Homo sapiens: one gene and its partners. The protein of the gene in region 1 interacts with the protein of each later gene in a pairwise test. Each region holds a gene or a part of one and is shown in the gene's direction. Other genes may lie near its edges.

Region 1 (7,032 bases):
GCTTATACACACAGCCTGAAGCTAATTTTATACATTTTTAATAGTTTTATGCATGAAATGAAGTTGTGACTGTGACCTGTCACATAAGGTCAGGTGTGGAATTTTCTACTTGTGGTGTCAAGTTGGTGCTCAAAAAGTTTTGGATTTTGGAGCATTTTGGATTTCAAATATTCATATTAGGAACGTTCAACCCGTACCAGCTTTATTTTGGTTAGGTTAGCATTTCCTTTACTTTTCTATTTTTTGTTATTTAACAAAATCTTTTTAGCGTAAAATGAAATTTTTGTTATAAATCACATACCAAATGTATAGCTTAATAAATTATTACAGGACCATACCATTCAGGTATGCCAGATCCCCTCCATTACCCTATCCCAGTCAAAACTCCTGTGTTCCCATTTAGTCACCATTCTTCTGGGTTTTATAGTTTTGTAGTAATCACTTCCCTGTTTTTTTTTTATTATTTATTTATGAGATAGAGTCTCATTCTGTTGTCCAGGCTGGAGTGCAGTGGCACGATCTCAGCTGTCTGCAACCTCTGTCTCCTGGGTTCAAGTGATTCTCCTGCCTCAGCCTCCTAAGTAGCTGGGATTATAGGCACACACCACCAGGATCGGCTATTTTTTTTTTTTTTTTAGTATTTTTAGTAGAAACGGGGTATCACCATGTTGGCCAAGCTGCACTGTGAGCCTGGCCTCCTAGTTTTTGATAGCTTCCTTGTTATATAATATATTGAACAATTCCTATCGCAGATATGAAATCAGCCATTTCTTTAAAATGCCCGGGTTTCATTTAGAGGGAAATAATATTTCAGTTACAGTCTGAATGCTAAAGATCCTGAGTTAGTCACTGTTTCAGGCATTTCAGTAGACAGAGCTAGGATACCTGTATCTGTCTATAGACACACATGTTAAAAGATACCTAATGTATTCTACTTCCAGTCTTCAGATTGAGATTACAGAGCTTTTACTTAACAACTTCTCTATCACAACTGTAACTCCTTTTTTCCATACTGAGAATCATGATTCTCAAGAATATAGGAGAAAATAGAATATTCCATATTTACTCATTATTCTGTATTATACATATGACAGTATCAGAACTATATTTCTGAAATCACCATCAATATGATTACTGAAAACATTAAACCTTTTTTTTTTGGCTTATGTTCTTCTCATTTTTTCTTCTCTCTCTGTTTTAACAGTTATGCTCTATCTGCATTGTCAGAGTATATAGCCATTTCATGTTCTGCTTTTTCCCTCTTAGCCTATTAGTTCTATTAATATATTTAATGTTTACCACCAGTGTTTATGCTGAGGTCTCTCTAGGCATTTTGGCTACCTGAAGCTAATACATTGTTAGATTCCTCGGGAAGTAATATTGTCTGAGTTCTTATATATTGATCAAAGTTTATTCTTTTTATACTTCAAAGTCAATTTTGCAGATATAAAGTCTTTGGCTCACACTTCTTTTCCGTGAATTTCTTAAATACATTACTCCTTTTTCTTCTGGAATAAAGTATTGGTATCAAAGTCAGATTATTATCTAATTTTTCTTCTTCTTATAAGTCATGTGGGTTTTTTTCTTGTAGATAACCAAATAATTTGTTTTCTTTTTTTCTTTTTGAGATACAGTCTTACTCTGTCACCCTGGCTGTAGTGCAGTGGTATGATCTTGGCTCACTGCAGCCTCCACCTCCTGGGTTCAAGCAGTCCTCCCACCTCAGCCTCCTGAGTAGCTAGGACTACAGGTGTATGCTGCCACACCCAGCTAATTTTTTTTTTTTTTTTTCTTGAGAGACAGGGTTTTGCCAAGTTGCCCAGGCTGGTCATGAACCCAGGCTCAAGTGATCCACCTGCCTCAGGCTTCCAAAGTGCTGAGATTACAGGCATGAGCCACTACGCCCAGCCAAATTTTTTCTTTTTCATTAAAGTCTGCTAATAATATTAGAATATATCACTGTGTTGGTTGTTTTGGGTCAGTATTCTCAGGTACTTCATATTTTCTTTCCATTTGTAGTTTCAAATCTTTTTTTAAATTTCAGGAAAACTTTATTTTTAAAACAGCTTTATTGATATATTTAATATACAATAAGCTGCACATATGTAGTATAAGTTTTGACTTACATATACACCTATGAAACCACCCCAATCAGGATTGTCAATATATCCATCATCCCCCCAAATTCCCTTGTTCTCGTTAGTAGTCTCTGTGTCTAGCCTCCAATTCTCTCAGCAACCACTGATCTGCTTTCTATCACCACAGTTGGTTTTCATTTTCTAGAGTTTTATATAAATGGAATGTTATAGTATGTACTATTTTATGGCTGGCTTTCAGCGTAATTATTTTGACATTTATCCATGTTGCACATATTCTTTTTTATTGCTGAGGGGTATTCCATCCAATGGGTATACCACAGTTTGTGTGTCTGTTCACCTGCTGCTGGACATTTGAGTTGTTTCCAGTTTCTGGCTATTATAGATAAAGCTCTTACGAACATTTGTGTACAGTCTTTGTGTGGACATAATGCTTTCATTTCTCTTGGGTAAATTCTAGGAATGGCATGACTGGGTCTTATGGTAAGTGCTTATTAACCTTTTAAGAAATAGCCAAAGTGATTTACAAAGTGGTTGTACTAGTTTAAATTCCCGTCGGCAGTATATGAGAGTTCTAGTTCCCTCACATCCTCGAAAACACTTGGTCTAGTCATTCTTAGCCATTCTAATATGTGTAGTGGTGTCACATCGTGTGTTTTAATTTGCATTTCCCTCCTGACTAACAATGTTTAGCATCTTTTTGTGTGCCTAGCTGCCATCTGTATGTCTTCTTTTGTGAAATGTCTATTGAAATTTTTTGACCATTTTTAAGTTCAGTTGTTTACTTCTTGTTGATGTTAACTTCCTTACTAAGTTTTGAGAGTTCCCTATATATTCTGGATATGAACCTTTTCTGATTCCTGACTATTTTCTCTGAGTATGTGGTTTCTCTTTTCATTCTCAGAATGTTATATTTTAAAGAGCAGACATTATTTTTATGAAGCCCCATTTGTTCTTGAATTGTATCATGCTTTTGGTGTCATATCATAGACATGTTTGCCTAACTCAAGGCCATACAGTTTTTCTGTGTTTTTCTAGACATGTTGTGATTTTAAGTTTTAGATTTATGTCATTCATTTTAATTTTTTTGTATATGGTGTGAGATATGGCTGAAAGTCCTGTTTCTTTCTCTTTTTTTTGTACATGGGCATCCCATTGTTCTAGCATCATTTATTGAAAAAAAAAAACTATCGTTTTTCCTGCTAAATTACCTTCGTATCTTTGGTGAAAATTAGTTGTCCATATATGTATGAGTCTGTTTCTGGAATCTATTTAGTTTCATTAATCTGTTTGTCTATCTTGATATCAATGCTATATTGTCTTGATTACTATAGCTTTATAAACCTTGAAATGATATAGTATTAGTCCTTCAACTTTGTTCTTCTTTTTCATTCATTCATTTATTAATTTAGAGATAGGGTCTTGCTTTGTCACCCAGCCTAGAGTGCAGTGGCACAATCATAGCTCACTGATTAAACTCCTGGGTTCAAGTTGTCTTCCCACCTCAGCCACCTAAGTAGCGAGGACTACAGGTTCATGCCACAATGCCTGGCTAATCTTTTTTTTGTAGAGATGGGGTCTTGCTATGTTGCCCAGTCTGGTCTTGAATTCCTGGGCCTCAAGCTGTCCTCCTGCCTCAGCCTCCCAGAGTGCTGGGATTACAGGTGTGAGCCACCATGGCCAGCCTGTTCTTTTTCAAAGTTGTTTTGTCTTTTATAGATCTTTTGCAGCTCTGTATGAATTTTAAAATCAGGAAAGTTTCCTGAATTATAGTTTTTTTAATTGGTTCTGTTGTTTTAGTTTTCTTTTTCAATTACCACTATTATGTGTATGTTTGAGCTTCTTTGCCTATCTTTGTCATTTTCATATTTCTTCTTCATTTCTTTTTAATTTTTTAAAATTGTTTTCCTTTTAATCTCTATTTCTCTTAAGGCATTGTCTGTAGTCTTTACTCATTCATTTTCCTTCTTTAATCTTCATTTCAGAAATAATTAGTTTTTAAAAGTTACTAATTTCTAGATTCTATCAGCTCATTTCCAAGTTTTATTTCTAATTATGTTGTTTATGTCTTACAGAGTTTTACATGTATTTTAGTTTGTTTTAATATAGAGGTTATAGTTCCTATCTGTTTTGTGAGCACGTCTTTCTAGTATATTTTTCTTGTCTGTAGAGATTTTTTTTAATATGAACTTTTACAATTTAAAATTTTTTTAATTTCATGGGTGCACAGATGTGTATGTTTATGGGTTACATGGGATATTTTGATACACCATATAATATATAATAATCATATCAGGGTAAATGAGGTAGCCACCATCTTAAGCATTTATCCTTTGTGTTAGAAACAATCCAATTATTCTCTTTTAGTTACTTAAAAGTGTGCAATTATATTATTATTGAATATAGTCAACCCATTGTGCTAGCAAATATTAGATCTTATTCTTTTTTTCTATTTTTTTGTACCCATTGACCATCCCCTCTTCCTTTCAGCCCACCTGTTACTCTTCCCAGCCTTTGGTAACCATCCTTCTACTCTGTGTCTCCATGAGTTCAATTGTTTTGATTTTTGGATCCCACAAATAAATGAGAACATGTGATGTTTGTCTTTCTGTGCCTGGCTTATTTCACTTAAAATAATGACTTCCAGTTCCATCCATGTTGTTGCAAATGACAGGAGCTCATTCTTTTTTTATGGCTGAGTAGTACTCCATTATGTATATGTACCAGATTTTCTTTATCCATTTGTCTGTCAGTGGACACTTGGGTTGCTTCCAAATCTTGGCTTTTGTGAATAATGCTGCAGTAAACATGAGAGTGCAGATATCTCTTTAATATGCTGATTTCCTACCAAAAATATAAAAAATTGGCCAGTGTGGTGGCATGTGCCTATAATCCCAGCTACTCAGGAGGCTGAGGCAGGAGAATCGCTTGAACCTGGGAGGCAGAGGTTGCAGTGAGCCGAGATTGTGCCACTGCACTCCAGCCTGGGCGACAGAGTGAGACTCAAAAAAAAAAAGTTGTTTCAGATCCTTATACATCCTGGCTATTAACCCTCGTCAGATGGGTAGTTTACAAATATTTTCTCCCATTCTGTGGGTTGTCTCTTCACTTTGTTGTTTCCTTTGCCGTGCAGAAGCTTTTTAACTCAATGTGACCCCACCTGTCTATTTTTGCTTTGGTTGCCTGTGCTTGTGGTATATTACTCAAGAAATCTTTGCCCAATCCAATGTCCTGGAGAGTTTCCCCAATTTTTTTGTAGTACTTTCATAGTTTGAGGGCTTAGATTTAAGTCTTGATTCATTTTTATTTGATTTTTGTATATGGTGAGAGATAGGGGTCTAGTTCCATTCTTCTGCATATGGATATCCCAGCACCATTCATTGAAGAGACTTTTCTTTCCCCAATGTATGTTCTTGGCACCTTTGTCAATAATGAGTTCACTGTCAGTATGTGGATTTGTTTCTGGGTTTTCTGTTCTGTTCCATTGGTCTATGTGTCTGTTTTGGTGGCAGTAGTATGCTGTTTTAGTTAATATAGCTCTGCAATATAATTTGAAGTCAGTTAATGTGATTCCTCCAGTTTTATTCTTTTTGCTCAGGATAGCTTTGGCTATTCTGGGTCTTTTGTGCTTTAAATTTTAGGATTATTTTGTCTATTTCTGTGAAGAATGTCATTGGTATTTTGCTAGGCATTTGCATTGAATCTGTAGATTGCTTTGAGTAATATAGATATTTTAACAATATTGATTGTTTCAATCTATGAACATGGAATATCTTTTCATTTTTTTGTGGCCTCTTCAATTTCTGTCATCAGTATTTTATAATTTTCATTGTAGAGATGTTTTACTTCATTGGTTCAGTTAATTCCTAGGTGTTTAATTTTCTTTGTGGCTATTGTAAATGGGATTACTGTTTTGATTTCTTTTTCAGATTGTCCTTGTTGGTTTATAGAAATGCTACTGATTTTTCTAAGCTGATTTTGTGTCTTGCAGCTTTACTGAATTTGTTTACCAGTTCAAATAGCTTTTTGGTGGAGTCTTCAGGTTTTTCCAAATATAAGATCATGTCACCTGCAAACAAGGATAATTTGATTTCAAATTTTGATGGCCTTTTTTTCCTTTCTCATGTCTAACTGCTAGCTAGAGCAATTCCAGTCCTTTTTCATCTCTAGCTAGAGCAATTCTAGTCCTAACTACAGCAATTCCAGTCCTTTTTCATCTCTGATTTTATTTGAATCTTTTTTCCTTTCTTCCTTCATAGTCTGGCTAAAGGTTTGTCAATTTTTTATCCTTGTTCTGTTCTAGATCTTAGAGGAAAGGCTTTCAGTTTTTCCCGATTCAGTGTGATACTGCCTGTGGGTCTGTCATACATGGCTTTTATTATGTGGAGGTATGTTCCTTTTATACCTAGTTTTTTTAGGGTTTTTTTTTTAAATCATGAAGGAATGTTGAATTTTATCAAGTGCTTTTTCAGTATCAGTTGAAACGATCATATGGTTTTTGTCTTTCAGTCTGTTGATAATGATGTATCACATTGATTGATTTGCATATGTTGAATCATCCTTTCATCCCTGGGATAAATCCCACTTGTTGATGATGAATGATCTTTTTAATGTGTTGTTGAATTTGGTTTGCTAGTATTTTGTTGAAGATTTTTGCATCAATATTAATCAGGGATATTGGCCTGTAGGTTTTTCTCTCTCTCTCTCTTTTTTTTTTTTTTTTTTGATATGTCTTTGTCTGGTTTTGGTATCAGGGTAATACTGGCCTCATAGAATGAGTTTGGATGTATTCCCTCCTCTTCCATTCTTCAGAATAGTTTGAGTAGGGTTGGTGTTAATTCTTTAAATGTTTGGTAGAATTCAGCAGTGAAGCCATGGAGTCCGAGGCTTTTCTTTGCTGGAGGACTTTTTATTATAGCTTCAATGTTGTTAGTTG
Region 2 (7,032 bases), on another chromosome or scaffold:
TTTTTACCACCTGGGAAGCTTTAAAAAAAAGCCTTGTCCCAGCTGCCAAGATTCTGATTGACTTCACCTGGGCAGAGCCTGGGAATTGGTGTTTTTTAAAGTACCCCTCAACAGTTGTAGGGTGCACTCGGGCTGAAGTACTTTGAAGGCCACAGTAAAGATTGGATTTTATTCTGAGGGAGATGGCTTTACTGAGATGAGTGACATGGCATGACTTAGGGTTGTAATAGGGTCACTCTAGCCACCCTGTGAGGTGGGGGCGAGGCCAGGGTGGAGGCAGAGAGACCCATCAGGAGGCTGTGCAGTAGTGGGGCTCGGAACAGCACAGTAGCAGCAGAGGTGGTGTCAGGTGGTCCAGTTCTGGAGATAGTCCAGGGAAGAATTCATGTGATTCGCTCATGATTGGATGTGGGAGTTGAAAGAGGAGGCAAAAGCCACTGTGAGGAGGAAAAGCTAGGGAAGACTAAGAAGAACAGATCAGGAGTTAGATTGTGGACTGGTTGGTGTCTATTTGACATCCATGTGCAGGTGTGGGGTAGATCATTAGATTTCCAGGTCTGGAGAATTCGGGGGAGAGATGCAGCCAGAGCTCTGGATTTCCACAGGTGCACATGTGCCTGCAAATAGTGGGTGGCGCTGTGCTGAGTTCCCTAGGGAGACAGCGGTGGTGGAGGAGCGTGGAGCTGGCTTGGTCATGCTGAGCAGTGCCAGAAGAGGCACTTCCCCTTGGTTCTGTTGCCTGAGCATAAGGGGGAGTGAGGTTTCTGGGCTTTGTGAGTAGCAGTAGGACTTGAAGTGGGGATGAAAAGGAACAGAAGACCTCCCCCACTATAATTCCAGCAAACTCTTCTCAGCCTGTCAACTTTGAGAAGCAGAACAGAAAGTGGAAGATGTGTGATGAGTTAAAAAGGAGACAGACGGGCCTCTGTGGTTTGCATGACTTAGAAATATGAAAAGAAATTGAACCTATCAAAAAATTGGGGTTCTTCAAGAGCAGCAACTATGACCCATCTGTCCCTAGCATCAGCATGGAGAATCTGCTTGAATGTTGGTGAAGGGCATTGGCGTGCCATTTCCCTGCTCCCTGGGCATTCAGAGTGAGAAGTGCCAGTCCTACTCTCAGGGCCATGCTCAGCTGGAAACCAAGACTTCATCTCTTAGAGATGAGCTGTCATTCATCTCTTAGATCTTTAGGCACAAACTCTCTGGGTTAGATGTCCTGCACCAAGCACTGGAGAAGTCAAAGGCAAATTAGAGATGTTCCCTTTCCTAGGAGTGCATCCCCAGTGAGGGAGGTGAACACATTTTGACATGGAGGCAAAGTGTCAGGCAGACAAGCAGTACCTGCCAGGTCACCACATCTCAGGCCCTTCTGCTCACATCTTGTCCCCATACCTGGCACTGGTCAGGTTTACAGGGACCCAATCAAGCCAAATGAGTTCACAGGACAGATAAACCAGAGGATATATCAACTCAATAGAGGGATTACACCTTTCTGTTGCCCACAGCACCTCCTTCCTCACATTAGTGACCCGAAAGCCAAGTTAGTGATCAGAAGATTGCATGGTGAGCTGGGAACAAGTCAAGGGAATTAGCCCAGGTCACAGAGAAGCCTGGTGAGTGACCTCTGACCCCACAGCACAGTCCCACCCCGCCAGTGTCCCTGTTCCTGGATGGTGTTCCATAAACACTGATTCTGCCCTGAGGGTTCCTACTCACAGGTAGATGGCCCTGTCAGGGAACAAATGATAAAGTTCAGTAAGTCACAGTTCTGTTCACAGCCTCATTGTGGCTTGAAGTTGAAGCTTCCCAAATCTCTTCAACTGTGTGTTGAGACCATCCATTAACGTTGAGACCTGGGGGTCTTCCCATCTTCCTGAGACCTGGGGGCCCCTCACCATAACATGCCCTTACAGAGTCTACGTGCCATCTACTATGAAACAGTATGGCGTGGTCAGAGCCACAGCAGAGGTGTGAACACAGGACAGGAAACAGCTGAGAAGACCATATAGGAATGCCAAGTACACAGGTGTCAAACCATGCTATCCACAGTTATCATGGACATGTGTCCCTTTTTTGCCAAGATTGGCAAGTACATGAGGAAATGCACATCTTTATTTATTGTTGGTGGGAATATAATTTGGGAACCCCCTGGAAGGAACTTTTGCAATACTTACCAAAACATAAACTGCACAATTGTGAAAAGATGTTTGCCTAAGGATATTCATCATAGGCAGCATTGTTTATAACTTAACAAGCTTAACAGCCACCTGAATGTCCCAGGAGGGGATTAGATAGGTAAATTTGGGGCAGTACACACAATGGTACACAGCACAGGGTTTTAAAATGGTGGTGTGGCTTTACTGATGTGACAAACGGCATGCATTGGATGACCTCACACAGTAAGACCGCAAATAAACAGATTTGTCTGTAAAGATATTCGCCATTGTTAACTGGTTGTCTCAAGAGATGAGAATAGTGGAGCAGTTTTAATATTCTTTGTATTTTCAATATTTGATTCTTTTACAATGAACACAGTAATTTTTTAAGAAAAACAAAGCCGTGGTCCACAGTGGGAGGCAGGATGCTGAGGGGTCCACACGGACGGAACTGGACTGCCAGGTGAATGTGACAGCTGAGGGAATGGGAGGTGTCACTGTGATTGTTGTGCCTGGCTGGACAGGGGCTGGGTGATGTTGTCATTAACATGTCATGCCCCATGTTATTCTGGGTTTCAGCAGGTGGGCATGGGAAATCCAGCTGTGATGCCAATAAGCAGTGACTCATCGATCCTATCTGGAGTGGGGTCCGGGATTTAAGTCACTGGGGAAGGGTAGGGGTGGGATCGGTGGAGTAACTGCTGAGAAGAGGATCTGGAAGTACACCCTGGAGCTGTTTCAGTACTTCCGTTGACATCACCCTGGGTGGGTGGGATTGGTGTAGTAACTGCTGAGAAGAGGGTCTGGAAGTACACCCTGGAGCTGTTTCAGTACTTCTGTTGACATCACCCTGGGTGGAACCTTTCATCACACTCCTGTCTCTGCCTTTTCCTTTAATCGCTATTGTCTAATCCTCTTGTAACACACTTCTTTCCGGTCCCCATGCCTCTCAGGCCCTGTCCTATTACCTTATCCTTCTCCGTCTGCCTCCTGCCACCTCCTGGTCCAGGCCTTGTGCATAGCCTGTTAGAGGTCCTCCTGCCTCTAGCCCACCCTCCTCATCATTCCCAGGTGTATTTTCTTAGTACTTTCAGCATGTCATTCTGCTAAAAACTTCCAGAGGCTCCACAGGTCCCCTGCCTGGATTTCATAGCTCCTGTTGCCTTGGCCTCCTGACTCCTGACAGTGATCCTTGGTCACTGGTGCACACCGTGTAGTCATTTCTGACACCAGCTTCTGCTCATACTATTTAGACTAGTACCCTGGCCCAGGCTTCTTTCCAGTCTAGCCAGATCCTGCCCACCCCATCCAGCACCCTGTCTGCACTCAGAATTGTTGACGCCACTCGTTTTAATGTTCAGTGAAACACAGCCCTATGTTACTTAATTAGTTTGTGCATCTCCTCAAGTAGATTAGAAAAGTTTCTTTTTTGTTTCTTAGCTGTGTACTTTATTGATGGTCTATCAGTGTTTGAGAACTAAATAAATTTAAGGAATGGGTGTCTCCATTGAAGGTGGTAGAGCTGTGCACAGGGGAACAGATCAGAAACCACTAAGCGGGAAGACCCCCTGCAGATTGACCTTGGCTAGGGAAATTTGCCTTCCCACTGTCCTGCTCACTCCCTCAAAGAGCTTCCACTGCAGGATGTTGCTCCTGCAAACACTTACCCTCAAAAAACATTTGCCATCAGACAGACTTTCTGAAATAGAAACTCAGCTGGAGCTGAATGGTATAGTTAATGTTGTTATGGATGATTGTTGCTGTTCTTTCTCTTAAAAACCTGAAAACTGCAACAAGAATTTTACAATCACAAGCAAACAGCAGGTACTCAGTCTTTGAATCTGGAGAGGGAGAAAACCAACCAAGATCAGAGAAGGCCCCAGCTCTGATGTAGAAAGCTATAGACAGATTATGGCAGTTGCCTGGTTTTAATCTTTGTAGTGGTAAGAGTTCATGATGCAAAGATGCAGATTCATCCGAGTTGTTACAGCTGTCCTCTGCCTCGATGGAGCTTGGAGAAATGTCTTGCCTGAATTTTCCAGTAGATGCTGTGAAAGGGAAGCTCACTGACCATCTTCCATTTCAAATTGTACTTATCCTTTGCTGTTCTCCTGTTCTCCAGTTAAGTGGATTTTGCTGCTTGCTTTTTTTTTTTTTTTCTTTTTTTCCAATTTAGTTTTCTTGCCTGCATTGGATTACTTAATTTTGTTTCTGGGGAACATGAACAGTCTGTCATTGTATGTTCAGCATGCAAACACACTGAATAAGCACTTGCTGATGTTAGTGAAGCCTGGTGGGTTCTGGAGCAGTTATAGCATCTCAGGTGTGCCACTCCCATGAAGTTCATTCAGCAGGGATTTCTGAAATGGCATGCCAGGCCAGATTCTCGGCACTGGGGTACTAGGAGCAGACATACCCACAAGTTATCTTAAAAAGGAAGAAATGGATAATAAATAACTTATACATTATATGAGGCAGCAATAGCATTGTGGAAAAACTAAATTGGAGAATTGGACTAAGGAGTGCGTGGCAAGGTTTGTAGTGCTCTTGGTGGTGATGGAGCCTCACTGATAAAATAACATGTGAACAGAGACTTGAAGGAGATGAGGAGAGTGAACCATGCTGGGAGACACCCTGAGATGAGATCCGGGAAGTTTGGGGTGAGGAGTAGGGTTTATGGGGTACAGATCTATGATCGCTTGTAGGGCAAGAACTTTGGGTTTTATCCTGGGGTGGGAAATCATCAGAACATTTGCAGCCCAAGCATAAAATGACCTGACTGCATCAAGGCTCACTCTGGTGGCCATATTGATAGTTTATGGCAGGGAAGCAAGAGCAGAAATGGAGACCCCATAAGAGGCAAGAGATGGTGGTGGTGTGGACAAGAGAGTGGCAGTGGAGGTACTGAGCAGTGGTCAGATTCTGGATATATTTGGAAGGTTGATATAAACATGAATAATACATAACTCACCCTAGCACACAGGAGTCCTTTCAGGGTCAAGTGGGCTACCTAGCCAAGCAATAAGGCAGGAGAGCATAGGTGCTGTAATATCTAAGGGGAGAAAACAGGAGTAAATACAGTGTAACTCACTTCCTTGTTGCAGTTTTCAGGTTTTTAAGAGAACCATGCCTTACGATTTCTGTGTATGCTCTTGGCACTCGGCACACAGTGCTTAGGTTAGTTACAGAGTAGATATTTGGTGAGTGCATCATTCGTTTACGCTTACGGAGGGGATTGCCTTTGTTCTGTTTATATTGTGAAACCGAAGTGTTTTTTTAATTTTGTCTTATTCTGAATGTATATTGTTAAATGTTTTTTTGTTTTGGGTTTTTTGTTTTTGTTTTTGTTTTTTTTAGGTGAGAAGCCATTTACTTGTGAAATCTGTGGCAAATCTTTCACAGCAAAGAGTTCTCTTCAGACCCACATCAGAATCCATCGGTAAAGTTTTGCAGATATTTTTCTCGCATGGAGGCCTCATTCAGTTCTGCTGTTCAGTGAGGTGACATGTGTTACCTATATAGTTTTCTCCCAGTTGTTACTTTGCAGAATTTTGTGTGCAGTTTATTACTTTGGCTTTGTTTTGTTTGTTTGTTTTGAGACAGGGTCTCACTGTCGCCCAGGCTGGAGTGCAGTGGTGTGAGTGGAGTGCAGGTGGGAGTTCAGGCGATTCTCCCACCGTGGCCTCCTGAGTAACTGGGATACCACACCCAGCTAGTTTTTGTATTTTTTTGGTAGAGACGGGATTTCACCATGTTGACCAGGCTGGTCTCAGACTCCTGACCTCAAGTGATCCGCCTGCCTGGGCCTCCCAAAGTGTTGGGATTACAGGTGTGAGCCACCACACCTGGCCTATTTTGTTTTATCTTTTCAATAATGAAATTCCTCACCTAGGTAAAAAGGAATGCTGATTCTGGCCAGTAAAAGTTTACATTACTGATTTCATTTATTAAATTTTGATTGGGGCTACGGATTGGTCCAAAGCTTAAATCTTCAATCAAAAATAAGTATTAAATTTGATGTTTTCTGAATAAATGTTTTTGTTTACACAGTTATCCCCAGGTTGGACTTAGGAGTTCTTCTGACAGCATCACAAATAATTAGAGGATGCTTAAATTTTTTAAATTGACATTAATCATAGATACTTATTGGGCCATTAGAGTCTAAAAATTGGCTCTGAAAACTAAGACAAAACAAAAGAGAACTATATGTTTATTGTATAAATATTTACTCTCTTTTCTTATCTGAAATACATACTGTGGAATCATAAAATTTTATCATATATAGCCGTGCCCCATCTGCCACCCTTCCTCAGGCACCACCCACACCCTATTTTCAGATTAAAAACTGCCCATGGAAGCGAGACTTGCTTCAAGTCCTTGAATTAGTAGGTGAACCCATGACTTATGACTTGCAGTCTAGTTAATTTTCCACTACTCTTGATTGCTTCCCCCTAAATAATCAGGAAGTAGTAAGTAGGTATTTCCATTTTAAAAATAAAATGTTTATTTTCTTACAGAGGAGAAAAGCCATACTCCTGTGGCATTTGTGGCAAATCCTTCTCTGACTCCAGTGCCAAAAGGAGACACTGCATTCTACACACTGGCAAGAAGCCTTTCTCCTGCCCTGAGTGTAACTTACAGTTTGCTCGCTTAGACAACTTGAAGGCTCACTTGAAAATTCATAGCAAGGAGAAGCATGCTTCAGATGCCAGCAGCATTTCTGGCAGTAGTAATACAGAAGAGGTCAGGAATATTCTTCAGCTACAGCCATATCAACTCTCTACCTCGGGAGAGCAGGAAATTCAGCTTCTCGTAACCGATTCTGTACATAACATCAATTTCATGCCCGGTCCTAGCCAGGGAATCAGCATTG
Region 3 (5,587 bases), on another chromosome or scaffold:
AATTCCTGACTCACAGCGCCCCTCGGTCCACAGTGGAGAGGAGGAGGAGGAGGAGCAGAAGGAGGGGGAGGAGCTGCAGGAGGAGGAGGATTTGAAAGCGCTTTGGCCTTGTGTTATGTTTTGCTTCTTTTCTGTGTCCCCTGTTAGCACATTGTACTTGAATTACCTCAGTTTTTTGTGACCTCATGAGCTTTCTTAACCTCTGTATCTCTTTTTCGGTTGGGGCTTGGAGGAATGGGGAGGGTGTTCTTTTCTGTTTCTTGTGTAAATTAATAGTTGTTTTTATAGACTTCAGCTGGTCAAGACCCTCCCCGTGCCCCTGGAGACCAGCCTCCCAGCTGGCAGGAACTGTGCAGGAGGAGTTGATACTCAGGATCTGAATGTGAGGGCCGAGGAGGGCGAAGAGCGTGGGTGGGGAGGGGATGTTGCTTTGGGGTCTCATGGTCCCCAGAGGGCACTAGGGAGTCACTTTTGGCTCCGCTGGTGCATGAAGTCACCTGTGGCCACCATCCGTTCCGCCTAAAACACTCTGGAGAGAATCCCACCTTTCTTACAATTTGCTGGGCCATTGAGGTTTGAGGGCCTGTGTTTGGATCCTTGCAACTGTGTGGTCTCACCTCTGTGCGTGCATTCTCATTGCCAGAATTGGTCTATTTTCACGGCTGGTCTTTGGGGAGGGGGGCGGGATCCAGCCTTTGTTTTGTTGTGTTGGGGTGGGGGTGTTGTTTTTCTAAAAGCTACCTCTTATGTTTGTCCAGTTGTTCTTTTGTTCCTTTCCCGCCTCCCATTCTGCTGCTCTTCCTCCCTCTTTTCCCCAACCTCCCCCGACCCTCCTGAATTTTGGAAAGCACATTTGCAATATTCGTGTTTGCTTTGGGACGGACCCTCCGTTTCATCTCATGCTTTATGTGTAAGAGTTTTTTATTATTATTTTTTCTTTCCTTTCTCTCTCTGAGAAAGTTGTGGCTGCGTTTTGATCTTAGGTTTTACAAAGTGGTTTAGGGAAGCGGTTTTGGGGAGAAGGATCACGAGGAATGTAGGGAAGCCGGAGGGATGGGTGCTGCTGCGACGACCCCCCCGTCCCTCGGCCCCAGCCCTCCTGCCCTCCCCTTCAATCTCATCCACCAAATCTGAAGGCCTTAAAATTGTGTGTTGGGAGGATGTGAATTGGGAGGACGGTGTCACTAGACTGTGGATTAGGGATGGTAAAGTAGGGAGGATGCTATTTTGCAACTATAGTAACGACTTAGTGTTTTGGAAAGGAAAAGAAGTTAAACTTGAAATACGTGACTAGAACAGTTGTCATGTTTATAATGTGAAAAGGGTGAAATCATTTGGGGGAGGGGCCGTCTGTAAGAAATCATTATGCACTATGGCTTCCTCCTCTGGTCTGGGAAGAAGCGGGGACTGGCTGGCCCTCAGGGGATCTGTAAATCCCAGAAAACAGTATTTTTAACAGCAAGATGTCATTCAACATTGGTGGGGAAGGAAGAGAAAAAAATCAAACTATTCCATAGAACTAGCTGGCCCCCTCACTCCCATGCCCTTCCCACTCAGCCTGGGCCCCTCCCCGCTCCATTCATAAAAGCTGAGAGGGTTGAGCTAATCTTCACAAATTGTAATATTTTTGTAGTATCTGTTAGTTCCTTCGTCAGTTCTGCAGAACCTTGCCCTTTCCTTTTGTAATGTGAATAGGAAGACAAAAGACAAAAAAAAATCCACCACCACCAAAATATCCCTTTGTACATGTATGTGCGTGTGCGCGTGTGCTTTGTGTGTGTGGTTGTGTGTTAAATCATGCAGTATTGTCGTAATCTGGTGTTGCAGCAATGGATGGTACTAAATCAGCACCTGGATGCCCCACCCAACCCCGTGGGCCCTGCAGACCCCAGTAGGGAGGTATGGGGAGAGCTCAGGGGAGTGTGGTTTCTGAGGGCTACTGTCTGGGGACACCTCTGAACTTACTGTACCTTCCTCTCCCCATGAAGACACCTGAATAGAGTCTAACATGCCTCTTCTCCAACTTCCTACCTACAACAACAGAACAGTTCTAATGTTGCACGGCCTAGTGGCCAGGGGGCAAGCTAAGAGGCTGTCTGGAGGCTTTATATGTGTCTGGAGTTAAGGGGAGAGGAGGAGGGTAGACAGGGGTCTCTCCCCAGGTGGGATCTGAATATCTGTCCTCCCCTCTTCTTCATGCCACCTGACTCCTTCGGCCCCCTGGCTGCCTTTAGCTGTGGTACTGCTGACAACCCTGCTTGCTACTGCCTTATCCAGCACAGTGAAAAACTTCTCCAGCCTGGCAAGGCCACGTTGGTTAATAGTCCCTTTCCCATGTCCAGCTCCTACAAATATGTCCCTTAATGCATTTGGTGACATTTACACCTCATGTGCTCTTTCCCTATTCACTCCTTCACTCATTCAAAGCATTAAAATCCTATGTATATATAGGATAGACAAATATATAGATATATAGATATATATATATATAGCAAGAGATTGATATAAAATAGTAAATATCATTGCTGCTTTGGGCTGCTTTGGAGGAGGAGGCCATGAATATGGGGAAGGCAGATCTGGGGTGCAGGGGTAGGTAGGGAGGCTGGGGGACCCAGTGATTCAGTACAATCCAAGGGATGCAACGCGGGCTTGTTTAATCTTTGTGCCTGAACAGTTTTTCCATGTTGAGAAAAAAAAGAAAAAAAAACTGCTGCAATTTTTCACAAGTGTATGGTACCTTTCTGGATGCTATTGGTACAATTGCTGTGGATGGAAGAGGGCCATTGAGCTTACCTCCCTATAGGGGAGAGAGCAGAGGTGGGGCAGCCTTTCGACTCTGTCCATGACGGCTGGCAGGGTCAGGGTAGTTTCTGGGCCTGCTTCCCGGCAAGCCGAGCTAGGGTGAAAACTGGGGGCGCACCAGGATGTGAGACAGAAAAGCAGAAGATGAGACTCTGTTCATTCACTTTTCCTAGGCCCATCCTGTGGTCATCTTTCCCCCTCCCATCATACCTCCTCCTTCCTGGAGCCTCTGCCGGCTTGGCTGTAATGGTGGCACTTACCTGGATATTTCAGTGGGAGGATGAAAGGCGAGACTCACCCTACGCGGTGGGACAGATGGGGAGAGGAAAAAGGCAGAGATGGCCAGGAGAGGGGTGCAGGACAAACCAGAGAGGTTGGGTCAGGGGAAAAGGGTGGGGAGAAAGAGGGGTGCAGGCCCTGCAGGCCGGTTAGCCAGCAGCTGCGGCCTCCCCGGGCCCTTGGCATCCAACTTCGCAGACAGGGTACCAGCCTCCTGGTGTGTATCATAGGATTTGTTCACATAGTGTTATGCATGATCTTCGTAAGGTTAAGAAGCCGTGGTGGTGCACCATGACATCCAACCCGTATATATAAAGATAAATATATATATATATGTATGTAAATTATAGCACTGAGGGCCCTGCTGCCCTGCTGGACCAAGCAAAACTAAGCCTTTTGGTTTGGGTATTATGTTTCGTTTTGTTATTTGTTTGTTTTTGTGGCTTGTCTTATGTCGTGATAGCACAAGTGCCAGTCGGATTGCTCTGTATTACAGAATAGTGTTTTTAATTCATCAATGTTCTAGTTAATGTCTACCTCAGCACCTCCTCTTAGCCTAATTTTAGGAGGTTGCCCAATTTTGTTTCTTCAATTTTACTGGTTACTTTTTTGTACAAATCAATCTCTTTCTCTCTTTCTCTCCTCCCCACCTCTCACCCTTGCCCTCTCCATCTCCCTCTCCCGCCCTCCCCTCCTCCCTCTGGCTCCCCGTCTCATTTCTGTCCACTCCATTCTCTCTCCCTCTCTCCTGCCTCCTGCTGCCCCCTCCCCAGCCCACTTCCCCGAGTTGTGCTTGCCGCTCCTTATCTGTTCTAGTTCCGAAGCAGTTTCACTCGAAGTTGTGCAGTCCTGGTTGCAGCTTTCCGCATCTGCCTTCGTTTCGTGTAGATTGACGCGTTTCTTTGTAATTTCAGTGTTTCTGACAAGATTTAAAAAAAAAAAAAAAGGAAAAAAAAAGAAAAAATGAATTTACTGCTGCAGGTTTTTTTCTCTCTCCATGTGTCACTAAGTGAAGTTTGTGCCTTCTATAGCAAAGAGAATATTTTTTACATCCTACTAACAGTAGATTTTTTTGTAGTGAACATTTTTTGTATTTTTATTTATAAGTCTCATAAGAAAAATAGCAATGTTCAGTTGTATACCTTGAATCTGCAGTTAGAAGAGAATAAAGTTAATTCAGTTGTCTCTCGCTTGAAGCGTCCCACCTTTTTATTGAAGTACTTGGTTTTGTTTTGTTTTTTTTTTTTGTTTTTTTTGCCTTTTCTTGTGTGGGGAACATGGTAGAGGAATTAAGATTTTTGTGTGGGGACTGGGAAAAAGAAAGCTCTGTATTACACATATTTAGACTTATCTATGTGTCACTTTTATGCCACATTTACAAGGCACAGATGCACTGAATAACATTTTTCTAATACTTTTTAGTTAAAAAATGTTAAATACGTTAATATCGTATGATCCTTGGTACAATGTGCTAGGTAGGCACTTGTTCACTTATTCAGCAAGACCACCATGTACCAGTTACTGTTGTCGGCGCTGGGAATTACAGCAAAGGACAAACAGACAAACCCTGGCCGCCCTGGGGCTACCATGCTAGCGGGCCGCTGAGTCGGAATCCGTGGCTGTGTTAGGATAACTTGCTCAGGATTGCACGGCTGGTGAGCAGCAGTCAGAACTCCATCCACCTCTCCTGATACCAGGCCAGGTTCCTTTACTCCAGAGTTCTCAAAGCAGGGGTCTCACGTCTTCTTTAGTCTTTAGAGAGACATTTTCAACTGACTCCTTAGTGGCTAAGCAAGCTTCAGAAATTTCTCAACAAGAAGCTTCCACACAATCAAAGGTCCCTGCCTGCGTCTGTAGCAGCCAAGAGCTGTTAAGAAAGGAGATTGGAGCAGGTGGCCTTGTGCAGGGGAGGGGATGGGTGGGAGGTGGCCGTGCAAGCTCTGCATTGTCATGGACGGAATAAAGGATTTCCACAACACTCAATGGGTACGATTCCCTCCCTGTCTCATCTCCCTGTGTCTGGGCCAAGCCCTCTTCTCTGGCCCTTTCCCCGTTCCTCTTATCGGGGATAGAAGCATCGCCCTATCTTTAGCTGTAAAACCAAAGCCACTCAATCCTAGACGTGGTGCTTCAGCACCTCTGCCTGAGGCCGTCCTCACTGCCTGTCTCTGACCAAAATAACCCCTCTCCTCCTCAAGACCCAGGGGACACAGCCATGATTGTCGTGCTGGGTCACTCCGGTAGGGTAAACCCACACCGAGCATCAGGCCTGGCCTCCAGCATCACCAGGAGTCGCAGGGAGCCATCACCCCACGCGCCACCGCCACCCACCTGGGGAGCCAAACAAGGCCTGGCCTGCCAGGGGTGGCACTGGGAGGGTTACCTTTCAGCCCTGTTCTCCTGGGGCCAAGACCCGGGTCTGTCTGACCCTGGGGTTGCTGAGCAGAAACCGCCTGGAGCTACCCCTACCACCGGACAATCTTCCCAGGAGGAGGAACAGGTGCAG
Region 4 (7,032 bases), on another chromosome or scaffold:
TCCAAAAAGGAGGAACATAACTTTTTCAACTATGTAAAAATACTGCAGAGAAGCAAGATTTGGGTGAAATGCATTAAAATGTTAATATATGAGTAGTGGGCTTATAGCTCGTGGTTCTTCTTTCTTTGTACTTTGTACTCTATTTTCTTCCCAGATTTTTCATTAGTGGAACATACCTGAACTATTTTAATAATCTGAAAATAAAACAAACGTTGAAAGAAAGTAAATAGGCCCGGGTGCGGTGGCTCTCATGCCTGTAATCCCAGGACTTTGGGAGGCCAAGGCGGGCGGATCACCTGAGGTCAGGAGTTCCAAACCACTCTGGCCAACATGGCGAAACCCTGTTTCTACCAAAAATACAAAAATTAGCTGGGCATGGTGCGGGCGCACGTAATCCCAGCTACTCAAGAGGCTGAGGCACAAGAACCACTTGAATCCGGGAGGCGCAGTGAGCCGAGATCACGCAGCTGCACTCCAGCCTGGGCAATGAGGGAGACTTCATCTCAAAAAAAAAAAAAAAAAAAAGGAAAAGGAAAAGAAAAGAAATGGACAAAAATGTAACCCTCCTTAAATCTTCCACCAACAGGACGACAAAAGCAATGTTTTAGTGATAGTGTGCTGAAGTTCATGGTTCATTGCAGTCTAAGAAATGACACTTAAAATTTATGTTATTTAGTCTTTGTAGGGAAATCCCCTTTGAGAGTAAGGCTGGTGCAGAATCATGTGTCAACTCTGAAGTGAGAAAAAGGAAACGTGGTCCCACTGGGGCTGGCTGGTCTGATTAATTCCTAGAATGACATGAAAATGGGTTATTTTCTCTGGATGACTTATAACTGCGTCTAAACCTGAGTTTGATGATTTCCTAAAAAATGCAATAGTCAATTTGTCAGTTATTAATTATAAGTTAAATTTAAATCTCCCAATATAATTGTTAATACATTTCTTAGGGAATGTTGCCATATGTTTATCATCTTGGTACTCATAGGGAGAGGTCATAAAAACATTTCTATAGAGTCACAGATTATTTTATAGATTCAAGAATTATCATTCCTGTTGTTAGAATCTTGGCCCTGCCGTCTCACAGGGCCAGCAGGTCACCATGGAGTCCCTTATCAGGGACGTAACCAAAATAAAATATTTTGGCTTGTAGGCATTGAAAAGAATCTTCTGTCTTTGTCTTAGAATCAATCTTTGTCTTAGAAAGGAGAGATAGTCGGCAGACAAAAAGGCAAAGGGCTGAACAAATGTGAGCAAAGACAGGTCTCCCAGACTGACACAGGGATTGACATAGAAGCAGCTGAAAGGTGAAAAGTGAGCCAGCTTAAACTCAGCCCAAAGTTACTAGAATGTGGATGAGTCTTTCAAAAGAAGTCTGAATAAAAAAATGACCAGATCGTCAAGGAAAACTAAGTCAAGTTAGAAATGAAAGAATTAATTGAAGAAACAAAAACCCAGCATGCACTAAGCATTGAAATAGAAACAGCAGCAAGATAGGATTCCCAACAGATTCTATAGCATTTTCTGAATATTTCATACGTGGAATGCTGAATAAAAAACCAATGATATTACTGAGCACTTGCTAGGTTCTAGACACTGTGATCTGCACTTTTATTTTTACCTTTTAGTTTACATTTACATTTAGTTACATTTACAATTTCTTTTTTTTTTTCTTCAACTTTTACTTTACGTTCCAGTGTGCATGTGCAGGATATGCAGGTTTGTTACATAGGTAAATGTGTGCCATGGTGGTTTGCTGCATAGATCAACTCATCACCTAGGTGTGAAGCCCAGCATCCATTAGCTTATTCTTCCTGATGCTCTCCCTCTCCCCCGGCCCTCACAGGCCTCAGTGTGTGTTTTTCCGCTCCCTATGTCCATGTGTTCTCATTGTTCAGCTCCCACTTGTAAGTGAGAACATGCGGTATTTGGTTTCTTGTTCCTGCGTTAGTTTGCTGAGGATAATGGCTTCCAGCTCCATCCATGTCCCTGCAAAGGACATGATCTTGTTCCTTTTTATGCTATTTAAGCCACTTCTTAAAACAGTTCTGGGAAATAGTACTATTGTTATCTCCATGAAATTGAAGCTTAGAGAGGTAAAGTCCCCTGCCTCAAACCACCACAATAGGCAGGGGAGAGGGATTCAAACCCAGACCTTTGTGTCTCTGAGCCTGTGGTCTACCATTCTACACATTACATTGTTTTCATTTATGTTAAAGGTTTTGTTATATAAATAGTGATTTGACACCAAGGGCGAGTCTGAGCAGAGCAGATTTGCTCTCTACTTTAAAATCGCCCAAGTGAAATTCTTTTCTATTCCTTAGTGAAGAGATAGTGGAAAGGAGTTGTTCTTTTTTCCAGGAAACTGCCTGTGCCTTGACATGATTGCACATCCGTGATTGTCTTCTTAGGCAGTCAGGTGGTACCACGTAGGAAATGCTTCCAGCCAGCAGGGAACAAAAGGGGACTGGGGGGACCTCAGAACCATTCCTGGGTAGTTCACAACCACAGTCAAGATATGTGACTGTTCCGTCACCACAAAGATCCCTCATGCTGCTCTTTCATAACAATACCCAATCTAATTTTAAAATATTCAATTTCCATTTTGAGTATCATTGGACCCATATTGATGGGGCCTTCTATTAGGCTCAATTTTTTAGCGGGAACACCGCAGATCAAAAGGCTAGGAGACTTGAGTGTCCTGCCTGTAGTATATGATAGTTTTGCGCTACAAGCAAGCATTTAACTTCTCCACGCTTGAGTTGTCTCATCTATAAAAGCTGAGATAAAAATACCAAACCAGGCCAGGTGGGGTGGTTGATGCCTGTAATCCTAGCACTTTGGGAAGCGGAGTTGGGAGGATCGCTTGATGCCAGGAGTTGAAGACCCACTGGGCAATAAAGCAAGATCCCATCTCTACAAAAACAAAAAAATGTGGCCAGGTGTGGTGATGTGTGCCTGTAATCCCAGCTACTCAGGAGGCTGAGGCAGAAGGATCTCTTGAGCATAGGAGTTTGAAGCTGCAGTGAGCTATGATTGTGCCACTGGTGTACAGCCTGGGCAGCAGAGTAAGACTCTGTCTCTGAAAAAATAAAAAAACTAACCAATTGCGTTGATGTATGGGCCAAATGAAAGTAAGCGTATATACTTAGAAGAAAACAAAAATATTATAAACCAATGGAGCCCTTCTTGGAAGCTAATACAGGAGGTAAAGAATGAAAGTAATTTTATGTGCTAGTAATAAGCCCATCTGTATTGCTGGCAAGCACTTCTAGGGGCCAAATTGGACGTGACTCATTTCTATGAAGTTAACTTGTGGCATTGGGCCTCAAACAGTAGAGTCACTTCATCATTGAATGGGAGTGAATAAAGACACTCTCAACAATGAGACACATTTACAAAATGAAAATCAGGCTATTGTGAAATCTATAAAAGATTTTCTTTCATAAATGGAGTCTAGATAGTGATCCCAGATTATCATGACAATTTGGTTACTTGTTAGATATGGAACATCAGCGTCTATTTGGGGGGGATATTTATTTACCTCAGTTTGTATTGAAATAAAAGTTCAAATATTCTGAAAATGATGCAATGTGATGGAACTTTGATCCAAATATAAAATCTAAGGCTGCAATTTAAGTGTACAGCAAGTGGAAACTTCTCAATAAATGGATGTTAGATCATTTTAGTGGTTCATCTGTAATCGTTGATCACTTTGATCCATAAATTTAGGCTGGTACCTGCATAAGTACTTTAATGACAGCATAAATAGCCAGGATTTCAAGCATATTCTTGAGTTTCCCTGTGACATAAGAATCTCTTAAATCCCCTTTTCAGCAGAATTTGAATTACCCTAATTCCTATTACATGATTATCCCCAGCAGAACAACATTCTTTTAACAGGTAAATATCATTATAGGAAGCTAATACATTTAATCTATGTAAAACTAAAAATATCTTTTTTCTCCTCCTCTTAATTGATCCATATTTAATTTTCTTTAGACTTGTTAATTTTATATAATCTTTTTCTAACTATGCAGTAGAAATCTGTGACTGGATAGATTTTTTCAAATTTGGACAGGGTAGAAGTTCTTTTTTTCCTGACTATTGTGAAGGAAACTGCATTCTTCAGAGTTTTATGCACTGATCTGTAACGCCAGAGAGGAATAGAACATTTAACTACTTATAGGCAAATGTACATATATTAATAGAGACTGAACCTTAGTCTAAAACAGGAAAATAGGCCAGGCACAGTGGCTCATGCCTATAATCCCAGCACTTTGGGAGTCTGAGGTGTGAGGATCACTTGAAATCAGGAATTTGACCCAGCACTTTGGGAGGCTGAGGTGGAAAGATCACTTGAGCTCAGGAGTTTGAGAACAGCCCAAGCAACGTATAGCAAGACCTCGTCTGTACTAAAATAAATAAATAAATAAAATAAAATAAAATAAAATAAAATAAAATTAGTTAAGTGTGGTAGAGCATGCCTGTAGTCTCAGCTACTCAGGAGATGGAGGCAGGAGGATCACTTGAGCCTGGGAGATTGAGGTTGCAGTAGGCAATGATCGCACCACTGCATTCATTCCAGGGTGACTGAGAGTGACCCTGTCTCAATAATAATAATAATAATAATAATAAGATAAAATAATACAAACCTCTGAGAAAGGAAAAAAGATGAAACCAACTCAAAACATTTCCCAGGAACCTTAATTTAACATTATTCACTCCTAAAGAATATAATTCTTTGTAAAGTGTCACAGTTTATCCAGAGATAAGCTGTACTTTATACAAAGTTATGTTTGAAGGAGAAAACCTTTAATTATTTGAAAAACTAAGCAAACGGCTGTAAACATGAAAACCATGCATTTTAGGCTACTTGTTTATGATTATTCTGTTTGAATAGCTCAGACTACAGCACACTATTGGATAAATCTGTAATAGTTTTATGGACTGATGAGAATATATATAATCTCATCCATTTCTTGAACATGTTTGAAGATTCTACTATTCTAATAGATTAAATGGTTGTTGCAGGAACGTTGCTGTTTATTCGCTGGGAGTGCAAGTCATTTGTAACAACTTTGTTCTTTCCACCGATTAAAAGCCTGAAGCAAATGATATTAAAGACCTTATTTTCTGGTTCCTTGTTAAGGCACAAATCCCAACCTCTTTTTCCATCCTGACAAAAAATAGTCAAGCAGTTGTTCTTACTAGTGGTTGTGAATGCTGACCATATAATATGATAAGGACCCACTTACGAATATTCAACCTTCACCAAATACTTATTGAGTACCTAATATTTTCCACGTAATGTGCCAGGTATTTCACTGCAATTAAATGGACAAGATCACCTTTGAAATTCCCCTGGAATCGTGTGAATTAGTATTGCCTCTTGGTTAGACTCAGTTATAGCCAGTCTATCAAAGAGAAGTGCCTGAACTTGAACTCTCTTGGTCAAATACACTCACAGTTTTCCAGCTAGAGCTGGATTTTACTCTGGAACACAGCTACCAGAGTTTTCCACACTTGGATTTTCAACTTGATTAATCAACTAGAGCAGCTTTTGCGTAGGTAATGGGGACTTGAGGGAGGGACTGTGGAGCAAGGTTTGAGCCAGGCACTCGAGTACTATTCAGTTTTATTTTGTGAACACTCACAAACATTCCAAAGTTATGTACAAATTAGTTGCCTTGAGAGGAACGCTGGAGTCCCAGATATTCTGAGCTGAGAAGCCAGCACGGGGAGAGAGACACCGAGTCACCAAAACACAGTAAGTGGGCTGAGCAATGAAGGCTCAGCGACTCCTGATTGCCTTGAAGTGACTTTGCTTTCAAGTTGGCATTAGCTGTAGTCACAGGGTCCTAGACATGGGGTGTAGTAATTTCCACCGGGCATTGCATCCTCTTTGTGTTCTGTGCATTGGGAGCAAGTTAGCAAGCGATCCCTCTGTCAATCTCAATGGACTTCAGGCATTGAGCACCAAACCACTGTCCACTCCCCACGAGCTCACGTTTCCTATCATTGTGGAGGTGGCCTTTTGCCAATGGATGGATGCTCCTGGCCTATGAAATATTCTAGGCAATGCCTGGAACTTTCTGGGCAGTAGGAGCCACTGAGGTGAGCCTTAGAGCAAGGCAGAAAATAGAGTCCAAGAGGACCCCTTCTTTCTATAGGCTGGTGAAAAAGTAGTCTTTAATGGCAAAACCTGCAACTACTTTTGCACCAACCTGATAATTGCAGCTTTTCCAACAGGCCATGCAGGGCTTCCCCAGCCCCACTGGCTGTGTGGCACATGGAGGTAACATGTACTGTCCTCTTGCTGTCTGCAAGGGACGGTGTTAAAGGCTTTACATTCATTATCTAATTTTTTAATCAAATAGCTCTAGGAAGTGCTGTTATTATTAACTAGTTCCCTTTCTCTGATGAGAAAACACAGGTTCAGGGAACTTCAAACCTGGCTCAAGGTCACCCAGAAATAGTACAGTCAGGGTTCCAACCCCAGCAGTTTGACTCTGGGGTCAGAATTTGAGCCTAGGCTTATTTGACCTGAGCGTCCAGTATATAGCTGTCCTGAGGGAATATACTATAATATAAGGAAAAGGATGCTACATAATTTCTTATTTTTGGATAAGGTTGCTTTGTGCTTGTCCACCTTTCCATTCCTGGAGCTGAGAATGTGTATAATCCAACCCCAGAGAGGCCAGAGGAAGCCTGTTTGGGTGAATAATGATTTTAGGAGTGCTCAGCCCAGATTTGCCTGAGCCTTGAGGAAAATCTCATTCCCAAAGACACTTCCAGATCAAAGCTGAGGAGAATTGGGGTTGAGGGTGATGGAGCATTTGTTTCTAATAATATAGATTGAAAAGGGGAAGAAAACAGAGATTAAAAAATAGGAAGGCAGAGTTTTGAGAGGATATGCTTGGATAGGGATAGAGTCTGGCCACCCAAATCTTACGTTGAACTGTAATCCAAATTGTAATCCCCACGTGTTGGGGGAGGAAACTTGTGGGAGGTGATTAGACCATGGGGGCTGTT

Evidence for each region.
Region 2: the proteins of CEP70 (region 1) and ZBTB24 interact in binary tests that used the Homo sapiens proteins (3 or more experiments, as listed by UniProt).
Region 3: the proteins of CEP70 (region 1) and ZBTB16 interact in binary tests that used the Homo sapiens proteins (3 or more experiments, as listed by UniProt).
Region 4: the proteins of CEP70 (region 1) and IPCEF1 interact in binary tests that used the Homo sapiens proteins (3 or more experiments, as listed by UniProt).

The regions. Positions count from the first base shown.
Region 1 is NC_000003.12:138,584,251-138,591,282, reverse strand, and holds part of CEP70 (centrosomal protein of 70 kDa), read left to right. Parts: intron 1-7,032.
Region 2 is NC_000006.12:109,466,219-109,473,250, reverse strand, and holds part of ZBTB24 (zinc finger and BTB domain-containing protein 24), read left to right. Parts: intron 1-5,516; coding exon 5,517-5,598; intron 5,599-6,676; coding exon 6,677-7,032. UniProt on the Homo sapiens protein: May be involved in BMP2-induced transcription.
Region 3 is NC_000011.10:114,251,707-114,257,293, forward strand, and holds the end of ZBTB16 (zinc finger and BTB domain-containing protein 16), read left to right. Parts: 3' UTR 1-5,059; downstream 5,060-5,587. UniProt on the Homo sapiens protein: Acts as a transcriptional repressor. Transcriptional repression may be mediated through recruitment of histone deacetylases to target promoters. May play a role in myeloid maturation and in the development and/or maintenance of other differentiated tissues.
Region 4 is NC_000006.12:154,346,787-154,353,818, reverse strand, and holds part of IPCEF1 (interactor protein for cytohesin exchange factors 1), read left to right. Parts: intron 1-7,032. UniProt on the Homo sapiens protein: Enhances the promotion of guanine-nucleotide exchange by PSCD2 on ARF6 in a concentration-dependent manner.